2 separate regions of the Homo sapiens genome follow, and region 1 is linked to region 2. Evidence: fine-mapped expression QTL. Tissue or cell type: whole blood. Region 2 holds a variant in brackets; the other region holds the start of a gene. All regions are shown on one strand. Distances are from middle to middle.

Evidence for each region. PIP is the estimated chance that this variant, and not a neighbour inherited with it, causes the effect.
Region 1: it holds the start of ABCA7, and the variant in region 2 is fine-mapped to the expression of ABCA7 in whole blood (INTERVAL, PIP above 0.99).

Annotation. Positions count from the first base shown.
Region 1 is chr19:1,035,535-1,043,534 of GRCh38, reverse strand. It overlaps ABCA7 (ATP binding cassette subfamily A member 7), which reads right to left and starts at 3,428. Exons shown (of 47, transcript NM_019112.4): 1 at 3,339-3,428; 2 at 2,108-2,310; 3 at 1,932-2,025; 4 at 1,563-1,704; 5 at 1,359-1,471; 6 at 1,138-1,220; 7 at 709-789; 8 at 284-494; 9 at 62-201. The coding sequence starts at 2,173. It overlaps CNN2 (calponin 2), which reads right to left. Exons shown (of 7, transcript NM_004368.4): 5 at 7,289-7,405; 6 at 6,973-7,119; 7 at 4,470-5,910. The coding sequence ends at 5,635. RefSeq lists enhancers at 1,584-2,381, 4,274-4,773, 4,774-5,275, 4,863-5,422 and a silencer at 2,293-2,432.
Region 2 is chr19:1,004,200-1,012,199 of GRCh38, reverse strand. It overlaps GRIN3B (glutamate ionotropic receptor NMDA type subunit 3B), which reads right to left. Exons shown (of 9, transcript NM_138690.3): 3 at 6,647-7,679; 4 at 4,427-4,572; 5 at 4,229-4,344; 6 at 3,909-4,060; 7 at 3,418-3,582; 8 at 3,273-3,343; 9 at 2,468-3,027. The coding sequence ends at 2,598. TMEM259 (transmembrane protein 259) reads left to right here. Exons shown (of 11, transcript NM_001033026.2): 5 at 12-134; 6 at 208-308; 7 at 402-459; 8 at 537-620; 9 at 701-833; 10 at 1,005-1,104; 11 at 1,305-2,547. The coding sequence ends at 1,850. Among named protein-coding and RNA genes, the nearest start is that of GRIN3B, 7.8 kb to the right of the region's middle. RefSeq lists a silencer at 2,481-2,671. The variant G/T (reference allele first, on the strand shown) is at 3,554.

The DNA.
Region 1 (8,000 bases), 31 kb before region 2:
TGAGGGTACTGGATGGGCTCTGGCCACCACCCTCCCACCCCAGCATCCAGGCTGCCCCCACCTGGGCCATGAGCTTCCGGGTAAAAGGTGTATCTGGTGCAAAGAGTAGCTTCCCGAGGATCAGAGGCTTCAGGCGTCTCCAGAGCAGGCGGGACAGCGGGTGGCTGTCCAGGGCTCCAATCAGCTCCGAGCAGGCGGGGCCTGGGATGGGGGTGCCATGAGGCCCTGCCCCCCTGCCCAGAGTTCCACTTCCCAAGAGGGGAAACCGAGGTCAGTCACTCACTCAGGCTGCTGTCTGGCAGGGCGGATTCTGGCTCCTGCCCCACCAGCTCCATCAGGTCACTAGCCTCGTACCAGTTGAGGGAGGGGCCCACTGTGCTGCTAGGTCCCCTGACACTGCAGAGGGCCTCTGACAGCAACTCCAGGGGGCCGCTGGTCCCTCGGGGTCTCTGCAGCAGTGCCCGAAGCTCCACCAGGCTGCGCAGCGCCAGGAGCTAGAGAGAGGTTACCAGACGGAGCTGGCAATGATCCCACCTCCAAGCCCTAACCAGGGCAGGGCACTGGGCCAGGGGCAGCCTCTCCCTCTCGCTGTCTAATCCTCCTGAAAACCCACCCAAGGGAAGTGCCCGGGCTGCCCCAGACCCTCCCGGCGCAGGCTGCCTGCCAACGTTGCCTCCATGGGGGTTGAGGATGAGTGGGGCCTCGTACCTCCTGGGCCAGGTCCTCAGCGGCCTCCAACAAGCTGTGCAAGGGCTCCTGGGCTTGGCCCAGTGCCAACCCCAGGGATTCCTGGGGAGAAAGACCACAAGGGGGACAATGATTTTGAACACTCACTAGGGGTCCAGCGCTCTGGCCAGTTCCCAGGCAGACCATACTATCATAGCCCCCACTTTACAAATAGGGAAACTGAGGCTCTGAGAGGCAAAGGGACTCATTGGAGATCTCACAGACGAGTCTTCCTCACTGGGTCAGACACACTCTGTCTGGGGGCCCAGACGGACAAGCAGCATCACCGCAGAGACCAGGGACAGCCTGGATGCCTGGAACGGGAGGTCCTTGGCCCGGGGTGGGGCAGTGCCAGGACATCCCCAGTGCAGTGTCCCAGGAAGTCAGCGCGGTCCCGCCCCGACACCCTACCGTGCGCAGCAGTGACGTCAGCAGCTCCGCGACATCCAGCATGGGTGGTTCCAGTGGAGACTGCTTGGTTGGTTGAGGCTGGGCTGGGGGAGGAGCGCACGGGAGCATGGGGCTGGGGGGACGTTGGTCTGAGGCACCCACCCCCACCCTGTGCCCATTTCACGGCCCGGCAAGTTGAGGCTCAGAGCTCAGCCCTGCCAGAGGCCCCCCGGCCTCCTCACCCGTGCTGCGTGCAGCCCTCAGCGTGGCGATCAGCTTCCCTAGGCCAGCCAGCGTCCTGTGGGCACTGGCCCCTCCCAGCACAGTGCGGGCATCGGCTAGCAGCCGGGAGACCCTGGGGACAGAGAGAGGGCAGGAGGCGGGGTTCCGGCCGGCACTGCAGCCCCGAGTTTGCAGGCCGGCCGCACCCACTGCCTCTGGCTCACAGGGAGTCGTTGAAGTTGCTCAGGCGCCCGGGCTCCTCGCCCGGTGTCAGCTGCGGAAAGCAGGTGTTGTTCACATTACAGATGAGACCCTGGAGCCAGGGCACGGTGCCCGCCGATGGCAGTGGCTTGTTTGGGAAGTGGCCTGCGGGGAGACGCCTGGTGCTGAGGCCCTGTGGACTCTGCCTGACTCCACCCCCATCGGGTCGCCCGGCACCGCTTGCATGCCTCCAGCGATGGAGAGCTCACTCCCATGCCATGTATTGGCGGCCTGGTGAAGGCTCCCTGACATGCACGGGGGATTCCTGTGCACGGGTGAGCCATCTGCCTTCCCCTACACACACAAAGTGCCTGGTCCCTGGGGGGGCTCACATTCATGGTGCTCCAGGGGCGGGTGGGAGTGGCGAACAGCCACCAGGATGAAGAAGAGGAAGAGAGGCCACAGCAATTCGACCAGGAGCTGGACCTGGGGGAGAATAGGTGGGAGACGGTGGGGGACAGTGGGGGCTGCCTGCCCACCCGGCCCTGGTCTCACACTGGGGCGTTACCGGCTGTCTCCGGCGATACATGAAATTCTTCCAGAGCAGCAGCATCAGCTGTGTCCAGAAGGCCATGGTGAGACTGGGCAGGGGACGGGACAGAGAGGTCAGGACAACGGTCGGGCTGAAGACGTGCGGTGCGGCTGCGGGCAACTCCCTGCCCCTTTCTGAACCTCATTCCTTTATCCCACAGCGCAGGGTTCCTGGAAGCTCTGATTAGAGCGAGGCAAACAGTAGTCACTCGATAAAGAGGCTCCGCTACCCCAGGGGTGGAGTAAACCAATGGGAGCGCAACCCGCAGCCGTCCTCGCATCTGATTGGCTGCCAGGACTGTCGCTCTGAGCAGGGCTGACAGCTGGGGACTTAAAGATCATCCTCTAATCCTCCAGGGACCGAGTTTGGGCTTAACGCTTTCGTCACCAGGCTCCACCCCAAGCCTCACCTGGAAGCCTCTTCCAGGTCCTGACCCCCAGCCTCCTGCCTGGCCCAGCCCAGGCAAGGATTCCTTTCCCCTCACTGTTCTCCGAAGATAACAGCAACGAATATTGGCAGTGCTGGACATTTCACACGCCCAGGGGAAGTGCTGGACTATCACCCCACTCTACAGAAGTGGAAACCGAGGCCCAAGAAAGCAAACCCAGGCACCCAGAGAGACAGGCAGTTGCCCAGCTGGAGGCACGACCCCAGCTCTGCCCACACCTTATGTAGCATTAATCGCTCAGAGGGACCGCGGGAGCCAGAGAAAGAGTCAGGCGAAGGGGCTGGGATAGAGACTCCTGGAGTCAGCGATTCCTGATCTATTTTCCTTGGGCCGGTCCACCTCTGACACAGATGGAGAATCTGACGCTGACAGAGGGGCAGGAAGTTGCTAAAGGTGACCAGGCCGGAACTGGGACCTCAGACCCAGACCCTTACGCCAGGGTTCTTTCCTTTACATCAAGCGGGACTTAGGATCTGGGGGAGTGGGCTCAGTTTCTCCATTTGTAAGACGGGGCAAGGGGGAGTGCAGGAGTTCTAACGGGCAGGGGGCTGCAGGTGTGTGATCGGCAAAGGCCCTCTTAAGGGTCCCAGATGTCCGATGCCCCCCTTGAGAATCAGTGATCAATTCAGCCGTCGTCAACATTCACCGGAAGGAGGTCAGAGGCTGGACCCCCTAATTCCCAGGGAACTTGCATCCCTCCCGGCCCCAACCCCGCATTCTCGAGTCTCGGGCCTTCTTCCCTCTCCGAGTCCTTCTCACCTTCCAGGGGCTCCGCAGCTCTTGCCGCCTTCCCTCCGCCCAGCAGCAGGCAGGGAGCGCGCCGCCCCTTAAGCCAAGTGCGCTGAGCTTGCCCGCGCAGGTAGCAGCGCCGGGGCACGCCCCTGCCTCTGCACGCTGCTATTGGGCGACCTGCCCGTCACTCACTGGCCTGCTCCGTCGGAGCTGCGCGGGCCAAGGGAGGAGACGGGATCACAGAAGGGCCTCGCCTAGCCGGGTTTCTTAAAGGGACCGCGCGGCTCTTGCTGCATCACCGTAGGGTGGCGGAGTGCCCGGCAGGTCCCAGGCAGGCCGCCCTCCGGGAACGAGGCTGCGCTGTCTTTGGGGAGCCAGGCTGCCTCCCCACGTTGTATAACCGGCTGCAATACCGCAGCTCCGAATTGCAGGAGTTCCCTCTGTCCCCGCTGTCCCCGGGGCTGGCCAGGCTCCCTCTAGTTTAGTCCAGACTCTGGGACTACACTCGTCCGTCTGTAAAGTAGGGGTTCCACTAGATCATTCGTTCATTCATTCATTCCACGAACGCTCCTCGGCTTCTGCAGAGGATGGCAGGAGGGGGAGGGGGCCAACATTCTAGAGTCTCCGATTATAGTGGCTACCCTGATTTTGAGGAAAACCCGTTTCCCACTCTGGAAGAAGAGTTGAAATAAACTCTTCAGGCTGGAGGTGAAGCTGAAATGGGAGCGTGTGGGTCCACAGCTTTGAAGGCGCTGGGGAGAGTGAGAGGCGTGGGGACGGCTCCCGCGGCAGGAGGTGGCATTGCCGTTGGGGCTTTGAGGATAAATAGGAGTTCGCCAACGGGGAGACATCCAGGCTGAGGCCACGAGACTTGCGCTGTAAGGTAGAGTGCAGCCAAAGCGCATGGGGGGCATTTGAGGGAACTGCCTCTTCTCCAAATGGCCAGGAAGCCCAGCCTCTCCCTCTACCCCAAGTCCCGGCCCTTCAAATCATTCATTCCACCCAGACTCACCTGTGGCTTCAGCTTTTGCTCCTCCTCCCAATGGTGAGGTGGACATTTTCCCCTTGATCCCCCCATCCCCCAAGACCTCCTCTCTCCCCACAAAAGCATCAAAGCAAAGCACGCCCTCATCGACGCCAACTCTCTTGGCCACCTTCTCTTCGTACAAACAGAGGTTTTATTGCGTTTGGTCCACAGTCGTATTTCACATTATCTCACGGAGCAGGTCCCCTGGGTGGGGGGTCCCTGTGCAGTACTTGGCGGGGCATGTGGCCGGGGAAGATGGAGCAGTATAAGCTGGTCGGGCCCAGAAGGGAGGAGGGCTGGGGGCTCCTTAAAACCTACTGAGGGGCTGGGCACGGTGGCTCACACCTGTAATCTCAGCGCTTGGGGAGGCGGAGGCGGGCGGATCACACCTGAGGCCAGGAGTTCGAGACCAGCCTGGCCAACATGGGGAAACCCCATCTCTACTAAAAATACAAAAATTAGCCGGGCGTGGTGGAGCACCTGCAGTCCTAGCTACTCAGGAGGCTGAGGCTGGAGAATCGCTTGAGCCCGGAAGGTGGAGGTGCAGTGAGCCAAGATGGCGCCACTGCACTCCAGCCTGGGCAACAACCACAACTGAAAAAAAAATCTACTGAGGCCAGAGTGGGTTGGGGCGGGGAGCATGGAGAGGGGGTCAGGCTTAGCCCCAACAACTCAGAATTTCACTTCCTTGTACGGCCCTCACTTTCTCCACCTGGCCCCGGGGCAGGTCTGAGGGTCTGAAGTCTGTTGGTCTGAAGGTCCTAGGCAAATCCAGTCACTTGGGAGCCGGAGATATTTAACATCACGGCCCGGTCCCCTTTCCCAGGGGACTCATTTCCTAGCACTCTCTCCACTGTCCTTGCCCCACCCCTGGGGGAAAAAATGTATTTTTCTTTTGTGAATACTTCCTGAAACTTGCGGGCATAGAAACCACAAACTGCTCAGCTGACAAAAGGGGGAAGAGGCGAGGCAAGCAGAAACCGTCGGGGACCGGTTCCTTCCAAGCCCAGGTCTCTTCTTCCCAGCACAGCCTGAATGTGCCAGCAGGGACCCTCGCCCTACACGTATTGGGATATGGCCTTGACCCCTTCCCCCACAGCCCAGTGGCTCAGCCTTGCGAAGGATCAAGGCAAAGGGGAAAAAAGCTCTGCTGCCTGATCCCACGCTGACACTCACAGACCCTTGGTTGACTGGCAGCACTGAACGGGTTAAGAAAAAAAAAAAAAAGATGAAAACACAGAAAAACCCAAAAACCCAGATGGGCAGACGATGTGGGGAGAGAGCGTGCTGGGAGCCTCAGTAGCCGGCCTCCTCCTGGTAGTAAGGGGGATATTCAGGGACCTCCCCCGGGTCCGGGCAGTCGCCGGTGCCCGAGGGAGCCCCATCGGCCACTGTGCCTTGCGGGCAGTACTTGGGGTCATATATCTGCCGGCCCAGGCCGAAGACCTGGCCGCTCTGGTTGGCGCCCTGCGTGTAGCCCATCTGCAGGGACATGGAGGAGTTGTCACACTTGTCGGTTCCCAGCTTGGTATCATAGATGTGCCGCCGGGTCCCGGGAGCCGTCATGCCCACCTGGAGAGGAAGGAGGGGTGGAGCAGGTCATGGTGGAGAGAAGAGGGGACCTTCACTGGGTGCACTGGCTCACGCCTGTAATCCCAGCACTTTGGGAGGCCAAGGTGGGAGGATCACCTGAGGTCAGGAGTTCCAGTCCAGCCTGGCCAACACGGTGAAACCCTGTCTCTCCCAAAAATACAAAATTAGCTGGGCGTGGTGGCACATGCCTGTAATCCCAGCTACTCGGGAGGCTGAGGTGGGAGGATCACCTGAGGTCAGAAGTTCAAGACCAGCCTGGCCAACACGGTGAAACCCCATATCTACTAAAAATACAAAAATTAGCCGGGCGTGGTGGCGGGCGCCTGTAGTCTCAGCTACTCGGGAGGCTGAGGTGGGAGGATCACCTGAGGTCAGGAGTTCAAGACTAGCCTGACCAACACAGTGAAACCCCGTCTCTACTAAAAATACAAAAATTAGCTGGGTGTGGCCGGGTGCGGTGGCTCACACCTGTAACCCTAGCAGTTTGGGAGGTCAAGGCGGGTGGATTGCCTGAGCTCAGGAGTTCGAGACCAGCCTGGGCAACATGGTGAAACCCCATGTCTACTAAAAATACAAAAATTGGCCGGGTGTGGCAGCATGCACCTGTAGTCCCAGCTACTCGGGAGGCTGAGGCAGGAAGGAGAATCTCTTGAACCCGGGAGGCAGAGGTTGCAGTGAGCCGAGATCGTGCCACTGCACTCCAGCCTGGACAACAGAGTGAGATCCTATCTCAAAATAAATACATAAATAAAATAAATAAAGATTAAAAAAAAAGAATTGGGTGGACCTTTGGGCAGTCCTTAAGGGAAAATGACACAGGGTGAGGTAGTAACTTCCCTAGAGACCCACAGCCAGGTGGAAATGACAGAGGCTGAAATCCAAGGCGGAGACAGAGAGCGGGGAGGGAAGCCGGAGGTGGTCTAGGGAAGGGGCTGAGACTGAGAGTGGGGAGAGAAGCTGGAGGTGGCCCCAGGGAGGGGCCGAGACCACAGGGTGTAGAGGGGCAGGGAGAGGAGTCGGGGGCACCCGGGCGAGCCCCACCTGGCTGGCACACTTGTTCGTGCCCATCTGGAGGCTGATGGTCGAGTGGTCCATGGGGGGCAGGATATGGTTCTTGGGGTCATAGAGATGCCTTCTCGTGCCGTAGGCAGTCATGCCCGACTGGCTGGCGCATTTGTTGGTGCCCATCTGCAGGGAGGTTCGTGGGAGAGGTCAGACTGCACCCAACAAGCTTCCGGTCCCTCCCTGAAATTGAGGGACCACAGGGCTCCATGCCGCTGTCCCCCAATGCTGCTGTCCCCCAACACCGTGGTCCCCCAATGCCGTGGTCCCTGGGGCTGGGGGAGCTGTCGCCCACCTGCAGCCCGATGACGCACTGGCCAGCCTTCATGGTGGCATCGTCGAAATTCCGCTCCTGCTTCTCCGAGTACTTGACGCCAATGTCCACCCCGCTCTGCAGCCCCTTAGTCTTGGCCTGGGTGAGGGAAAGGGGCCGGGAGTACCAGCAGAGGGCAGCCAGGGACCCTAGATCTAGGCCCTGGGGGCGGGACAGAGACCAGGCCGCGGCCTGTCACCTCTGCCTGCCGCGCAGAGCCCCCACAGGCACATCTCTCGGGTGTCTGGGACTCCACACACTCCACACACCCATCATACAGCTGTTTCAGTTTTTTATTTTTATTTTTGAGATGGAGTCTGGCTCTGTCACCCAGGCTGGAGTGCAGTGGTGTGATCTCCGCTCACTGCAACCCCCTCCTCCCAGGTTCAAGCAATTCTCCTGCCTCAGCCTCCCAAGTAGCTAGGATTACAGGCGTGTGCCACCACGCCAGGCTAATTTTTGTATTTTTAGTAGAGACGGGGTTTCACCATGTTGCCAGGCTGGTCTTGAACTCCTGGCCTCAAGTTATCCACCCGCCTCAACCTCCAAAAGTGCTGGGATTACAGGCGTGAGCCACCGCGCCCAGCCCATGGGGCTGCTTCATCCCAGCGTGCCTTGTCTTAGGCAACAGCTCAGCTTTCCAGGGCTCAGGCCAAGAATTCTGGGGATGGGGACGTGGTTTTCGCTTCCTCTC
Region 2 (8,000 bases):
CCCACCCGCAGACCCCACGCGGGACCAGTGCTTCGGGGACCGCTTCAGCCGCCTGCTGCTGGATGAGTTCCTGGGCTACGATGACATCCTCATGTCCAGCGTGAAGGGCCTGGCCGAGAACGAGGAGAACAAGGGTGAGGCATGCCCCGGGGCCGAGGGTGCGAGGGCGCGGGTGGGGGCGGGCGCTCACGGCTCCTTCTGCTGCAGGCTTCCTGCGGAATGTGGTGTCGGGCGAGCACTACCGCTTTGTGAGCATGTGGATGGCGCGGACGTCCTACCTGGCCGCCTTCGCCATCATGGTCATCTTCGTGAGTGCCTCGGGGCGGGTGCGGGGGCTGGCCGGGCGGGAGCCAAGCAGGCCCTCGCAGCCCCTCATAGCGCTTCCTGCGCGCCCCTTGCAGACGCTGAGCGTGTCCATGCTGCTGCGGTACTCACACCACCAGATCTTCGTCTTCATCGGTGAGTGTCCCGCCGGCGCAGGGCGGGGCGGGCGTCCTCCAGGCCCTCACCGGGCGCCCGCCGCCCTGTGCCCGCAGTGGACCTGCTGCAGATGCTGGAGATGAACATGGCCATCGCCTTCCCCGCAGCGCCCCTGCTGACCGTCATCCTGGCCCTCGTCGGTGAGGACCCCACCCGGCCTCCCCCGCCCCGCGCTGCACCCCGCCCCGCCCGCTTCAACCGGCGCCGCCTCTCCCTGCAGGGATGGAGGCCATCATGTCGGAGTTCTTCAACGACACCACCACCGCCTTCTACATCATCCTCATCGTGTGGCTCGCGGACCAGTATGACGCCATCTGCTGCCACACCAGCACCAGCAAGCGGCATTGGCTGCGGTGAGCGTGGCGCGGGGGCAGGGTGGAGTGGGTGCTGGTGGGCAGGGGTAGGGGGCTGCCAGAGGGAGGGGCGCTGGAGGCGGGGGTGGTGGCTGCGCCACGCGGGAACCCCAGGGGCTGGGCCTGGCAGGGTGGGACCTGCAGCCCCGACGCCCTCACCCCGCCCCGCAGGTTCTTCTATCTCTACCACTTCGCCTTCTATGCCTATCACTACCGCTTCAATGGGCAGTATAGCAGCCTGGCCCTGGTCACCTCCTGGCTCTTCATCCAGGTGAGGCCTGGGCGGCAAGCAGGGGGCAGGCCAGCCGTGCCTTTCCAGGCAGGAGAGGCTGCAGCCGGGGAGGATGCCCTGTGGGGTCGGCCCAAGCGGGCAGAGGTAGCGTGGATGGTCCCGGGTGGGCTGCCCTCTGGGAGCAGCGGCTGGGTGGGGCAGGGGCGGGCCCGTCCTGACTCCCACTCTCCCTCCCGCAGCATTCCATGATCTACTTCTTCCACCACTACGAGCTGCCTGCCATCCTGCAGCAGGTCCGCATCCAGGAGATGCTGCTTCAGGCGCCGCCACTGGGCCCCGGGACCCCCACGGCGCTGCCCGATGACATGAACAACAACTCGGGCGCCCCGGCTACAGCCCCTGACTCTGCCGGCCAGCCCCCCGCCCTGGGCCCCGTCTCGCCTGGGGCCAGCGGGAGTCCCGGGCCTGTGGCAGCGGCGCCCAGCTCCCTGGTGGCCGCGGCAGCCTCAGTGGCAGCAGCTGCCGGTGGTGACCTGGGTTGGATGGCAGAGACCGCTGCCATCATCACAGACGCCTCCTTCCTGTCCGGCCTGAGCGCCTCCCTCCTGGAGCGGCGTCCAGCCAGCCCGCTGGGCCCTGCTGGGGGCCTCCCCCACGCCCCCCAGGACAGTGTCCCCCCGAGTGACTCCGCAGCTTCTGACACAACTCCCCTGGGGGCTGCGGTAGGCGGGCCTAGCCCGGCCTCCATGGCCCCAACGGAGGCGCCCTCGGAGGTGGGGTCCTGAGCCGCACAGCTGAGCCGCCTCTGACCCCTGCTGGCTGGGCCTGACCTTCCCGAGCCCGTGGGGGTGGGGGAGGCCAGCCACCTCCTTCCTCTGGGACTGCCCAGCCTGTGTCGGGGGCTTTCAGGGTTTCGTGGGGTTTGCCCGGAAGGCGGCTTTCCTCCCCCTGGTGTGAGGTCGCGCCCGAGGCTTGTACCCGCTAGTGAGGTGTTTGAGCTGGTCAGCAAGGAGAGGGGGTGGGGTTCCGCGGAAGGTTCTGGAGGGGTCTTGGTAGGTCTGCAGTGAACCGTCCTGAGGATGGAGTGGGGTCCCATGGTGCAGGTCTCTGAGCAAGGCGGAGGTGTGGAGGAGAGGCCGGCTTGGGGTGGGGCCTCGCGCCCTAGTGCCGGCCGGCCTCAGCCCGGCTCTGCCTGGTGCTCCCTGCAGTGCCTTCTCCATGGCCCCGCCCTCCCCGCGTGTGCGCCAGGCTTGGGGTCCCCGGGAGAGCAGAGCTTGCGCCTCGGGCATAGGGACGTGGGGTGCAGGCGCCAACATCAGTGGCAGCAGCCAGGGCCGTGGTCCAGTCCCACTCGGGGATGGAGTGGGCCGGCGGCCAAACCAGTCACTCGGGGAGGAATGCGGAGGAGCGCTCATTCCATTCTATTTAATTGCAGTGTACAAAATTGTGTTTGTATATAGAATAAACTGTCTGTTGACAGCGGCTCACTGCGCTGTGTGTGTGTCTTGAGCCCAAACGGCCCGGCTGCCGCCTCATTCCTGGCTCCCCGGTCGGCCAGAGTGTGGTGGGGCCTCCGCGGGGGCCGCTCTGGCCTGAAGCAAGCGCCGAGGCCGGTGACGTGCGCTGTCCCCGAGCTGTGCCAGGAGCTGGCCGCGCCGCACCAGGGCCTGGCGGAGCCGCTCACGCGCGACTTCGATGCGGCGCTCCAGCTCCTGCAGCTCCCCGGGCTGGGGGGCCCCCGTGGGCCTTGCGGCGGGCGGGCGGCCGTAGGAGCACAGCCAGACGGGGCCCTCTCGCGGCGCAGCCTCCGCCTCCGCGTCCGCTTCGGGTGCCACAACCACGGCGGGCTCCAGCAGGAAGCGCACGCGGCGCTCCTTGTCCACGGCCCGGCGCGCCCGTTTCCAGCCCTCCGGAGCCGTTGGCTGGTCCTGCTGCTGCTGCTGCTGCTCCACCTCGGGGCCGCTGGGGACGGAACCGGCCTGGTCAGTGTCCGCCGGGGCAGCCGTCTCGCGCCCTGGGCCTCTGCAGAGGCCGCTGACGGCAGAGGATGGCCGACAGGCACAACCAGGGAGCCACGGTGTGCACGTCCGGGGGTGGGCGGGGGACCTCCGGGAACCTCCTGCACCCCGCGGCCGGCTTCGGGGCGAGCTGGTGGGGTGGTGGGTCTGGGTGGTCCTGCATCGTGGTCCGCCCCGACCACCACTTACCTGGGCTCCGCCTCTGCCGTCTCCTCCTTCGACCCCTCTGGTGGCTCCGTGTTGAGGGCGCGGTGGATTTTCTAAGACCCCAGACAGACCCGGTTGGCGAGGAGGCGGGGGGGGTGGGGCCGCCCGCCGCCCACCCGCTCCCCACCTGGCTGGTGTGCAGCCAGTACTGCAGCCTGCTCCCCTTGCGGATGCGCGGCAGCGCCAGGCGGAAGAAGGCGTGCTCGCCCAGCGAGCTGAGCAGAGCGCTGCCCAGGCCCAGGCACAGCAACACGAAGAGGCCC[G/T]CGAAGTGGTAGATGCTCATCTGCAGGGTCTGGGGGCAACACAGCAGGAGCCCCGCACGGTCACGTAATGGCAGGCCCCTGGGGAGCCTTGAACTAGGGGAGAACAGGTTGGGCCAGAGAGAGGGGCTTGGGGCAGTGGAGCCAGGTTGGGAGGCAGGGACTCCATGGCTGGGGGGAGTGAGGTTTCATGGAGGAAGGGGCACTGCAGCCGGGGTTTTGTAGGGTGAATAGAAGTGCGCAGAAGCAGACAAACGCACGTCTGGGGAATGAGCACTGGGGTTGGTCACTTCAGACAAGGCTCAGGGCCCCCCACGCCCACCCCCACCCCCACCCTCTGTCCCAGGCCCTGCCCCACCTCTGTAACCGCAAAGACCCGCTTGCCGCAAGGCACCATCTTGTACCACTTGTCGTGGAGCAGGTCGATGAAGCCGGAGGACTTGTAGCGGCTGATGAACTCGGACAGGTTGGAGGTGAGCGGCGAGTTCTGGGGCAGTCCGATCCCATAGCCTGGGGGCGCGGGGCCAGGCGGTGGGGCCAGGTGGGACAGCCCCAGGGGAACTCTGCCCGCACACGTGGGATTTCGCCCCTTCCCACCTCGAACCCTCCGTGGCTCCCCACTGCCCCCAGGAGGTCCCCAGAGACCCCGGCGCCCCGCCTCGCCCAGGTGCCTCTCACCCTCAATGGCGAAGGGCTTTCCCACGGTCAGCAGTTTGCAGTCGGCGTCGATGGAGACCTCGTAGTCCAGGAGCGACTTGTCCATGATGAAGGCGTTGAGCTTGGGGGGGTCGCTCCTGCTGGGGCCGGGGGCGGGGGTCAGCCATCGCCCCGCCCACCCCACGCCCCGCCCCCGCCTCACCCCGCGCCCGGGCTCACGTGAGCATGGCGACGCCGCGGGGCGTGGTGGGCGCGCTGTGGCGCCGCATGTGTGCGTGCATGTCGGGGAAGCTCTTCTTGATGTACGCCTCGGCGCTGCTCTCCCACACGGTGCCGAAGCGGAAGCCCTGCGCCGGGTGGTGCAGCTGCGCGGGGGACCCCGTCAGCGCCTCTGCCTGCCCCTCAGGACCCCTGACCATTGAGGGGCGCGCCGTTCTCCGGGGTGGGGCCGTCCTGGGCACTGCAGGGCGCCGAGGCTGCATTCCTGGCCTCCACCCACTCCATGCCCAGAGCACACCCCAGGCGTGACCACCACAGCTGTCTCTAGACACACACTGTCCAGGGTCCCCTGGGGCGGGGGGCAGGATCACCCCGGGTGGAGACCCTCTGTTCTAAACGCCGGCAAGTCCATCTCCACCTGGACCTCGCCCTGGGCTGGACGCCTATCCCACCACCTCCTCTGCCTCTCCCCTGGGGGTCCCACGGGAGCCCCACTCTAACATGTCCATGACCCCACTCCTGATCTGCCCCCACTCGCTCTTCCCACCCCAGGCGGAGGCAGCTCTGTCGTCACTGCCTCTGACACCCTGTTTCTCCCGAAAACCCTGGGGGGCGCCACCTGCAACACAGGGAACTGCCCACTGCTCACCCCTCCACAGCTCCTACCCAGGTTGGGGCCCAGCGTCGAACCCAGCCTCCTTCCCCATCAACATCCTCGACCAGCCCAGGCCCCTCTGCGGGGTCCTCCCTGCACCACCCGTGGTCTGTTCTCCCCACAGCTGCCAGGGCAACCTGGTGCAGACCCCTAATGAGTAGGTGGGTCTGGCTGCTGAGGTCACACCAGCCACGGCCTCCCCACGGGATTCCAGCACCACCAAAAACCCAAACTTGAATCCCATCGTGCCTGTGGGTCAGCAGCATCTGATGGAAGTTTCCGTATGATGAAAAGGCTTTGACGGCTCAGCTGTGCAGCGTTTACATTGGAAGAGCCGCCGGCAGCAGTCGGCTCACCTGACAGCATGGCGTCTACGCTTTACTACCGTTTCACAGGGGACACCAGGGGCTGGGGAGCAGGCCAGGCACCCCCAGGGGACACCACTGGGCAGATCCAAAAGTTCAGAGACACTACGGGGCAGAAAACCCGACTTTGCCAAGAAATTACAAGGGGAGGCCGGGCACGATGGCTCACGTCTAATCCCAGCACTGTGGGAGGCTGAGGCAGGAGAATTGCTTGAACCTGGGAGGTGGAGGTTGCGGTGAGCTGAGATCACTGCACTCCAGCTCTGGGCAAGAGTGAGACTCTGTCTCAAAAAAAAATAATAATAATACGGGCCAGATGTGGTGGCTCACACCTGTGATCCCAGCACTTGGGAGGCCGAGGTGGGCGGATCACGAGGTCAGGGGTTCGAGACCAGCCTGGCCAACATGGTGAAACCCGCCAACTCTACTGAAAATACAAAAGCCAGGCTTGGTGGTGCACACCTGTAATCCCAGCTACTTGGGAGGCTGAGGCAGGAGAATCGCTTGAGCCCAGGAGGCAGAGGTTGCAGTGAGCCAAGATCGTGCCACTGCGCTCCAGCCTGGGCGATGGAGCAAGACTGTCTCAAAAAAGAAAAGAAAAATAGGCTGGATGCGGTGGCTCACGCCTGTAATCCCAGCACTTTGGGAGGCCAAGGTGGGAGAACTGCTTGAGCCCCGGCGTTTGAGACCAGCCTGAACAACATAGCCAGCCCCCCATCTCTGTGTTTTTTGTTTTGTTTTTTGTTTTTTGAGACGGAGTCTTGCTCTGTTGCCCAGGCTAGAGTGCAATGGTGCCATCTTGATTCACTGCAACCTCCGCCTCCTGGGTTCAAGTGATTCTCCTGCCTCAGCCTCCCGAGTAGCTGGGATTACAGGTGCCCACCACCATGCTCAGCTAATTCTTTGTATTTTTTAGTAAAGATGGGGTTTCACCATGTTGGCCAGGCTCCAGTTCGAGACTCCTGACTTCAGGTGATCTGCCTGCCTTGGTCTCCCAAAGTGCTGGGATTACAGGCGTGAGCCACCGCGCCCGGCTATTTTTCTTTAAATAAATAAATTAATTGAATAAATGTCTCTTGGGACCAGAGTTGGCCTAGTGGACGTCCTCCACGTCCAGCTGACCACCCCTGCCCCACACAGCCCAGCCCGGGGCCACCGCTAGCCCCCCAAGGCCACCCGCAGCCCCCCGAGGCCGCCCACCTTGGGGTCGTGGATCCCCGACAGCTCCTCGAAGGTCTTGTCCCCGACCATGACGGCAGCCAGGTTGGCCGTGTAGCTGGACAGCACCAGCAGGCAGAAGATGGCCCAGAGGTTCATGAGCAGGCGGCCCGTGGGGCACTTGGGCGTCTTGCTGGACACGGTGCGTCTGAAGAGGATGGCGTAGCACAGGTTGAGGGCTGAGGAGTAGGAGAAGACGGTGCTGCGGTTGCGGCCACGTGGCGTGAGGCCGTAGGGGCTACGCCACTCGTACACGGTGAGGAAGAGCGCGGTGAGGTGCAGGGCCGCAAAGACGCCCAGCCACGTGGACCAGTGCAGGGGCCACATAAAGGCACCGATGGGTGAGGCCGTGTCCCGTGCCCGCACCATGATGCCCAGGCTGGTGGAGAAGAAGGGGCTGGTGAAGTCCACCACCTGTGAGCGGGCGGAGTTGATACTGAAGCTGGTGACCGCCATGTGGGCCCGGCCGGCCAGCAGGTCCCCGACCAGGCCGGTCCAGCGGCCGTCCCGCAGGGCGCCGTACTTGCCGTCACCCACGAGGTACAGCTCGAAGTCGAAGGGCGTGTCCTCCGCCAGCCGCTCCAGCAGGTCAATGCAGTAGCCGTAGCAGCACTTGCGCAGGGCACGGGGCGCTGAGCCGTTGGCCAGCGCGGCGAACAGTGCGTCCAGGGTGGCCGAGTCGTTGGTGCCAGGGTCCAGGCACAGCTGCCCCGCTGGGCACTGCCCGTCTTCGTCTGGATCACGGGCAAACACAAATGGGTGTTCCAACAGCGTTACCACACGCAGCTTGGGCCAGACCTGGGCACCCTGTGGGGGCGGGGGCCGTGCAGAGGCACCTCCCGGTTCCAAGTCCAGCTGGCCGTCCCGCCAGCTGCCCACCGTGGCCCAGGCCGGGGCGCCCCGTGGGTCCCGGCGAAGGCTCCACACCTTAAAGTGCCGAGACATGTGTACCTGGGAGCTGCCTGTCACCCACACGGGGCCCGTGCGGCCCTGGAAGGACGTGTTGGCCAGGAACCTAGGGGCAGGGCGGGGGGGGTGTCAGGTGTCGAAGTTCACACCCCTCCATCCTCTCACCCCTGCCCAGCACGTGCCCGATTCCCACTGGTCGCTCTTGTCCGTATCATGAGGACAAACGTGGACGCTCCTGGTGTCCCCAAGCCTAGTCCCCAAGCCTAACCCCTTGATCCCGGGGCATCCGTGCCCGATGCCGTGGCTGTGCCCCCACTCCACATACGCCTGAAGCCAGTGACTGACACACAAGCACCCAGCTGGGGTCACCTGTTTCCAGGAGTTGTTCATTCTCAGGAACTCCTCCAGGGCTCAGCCAGAGACCCGT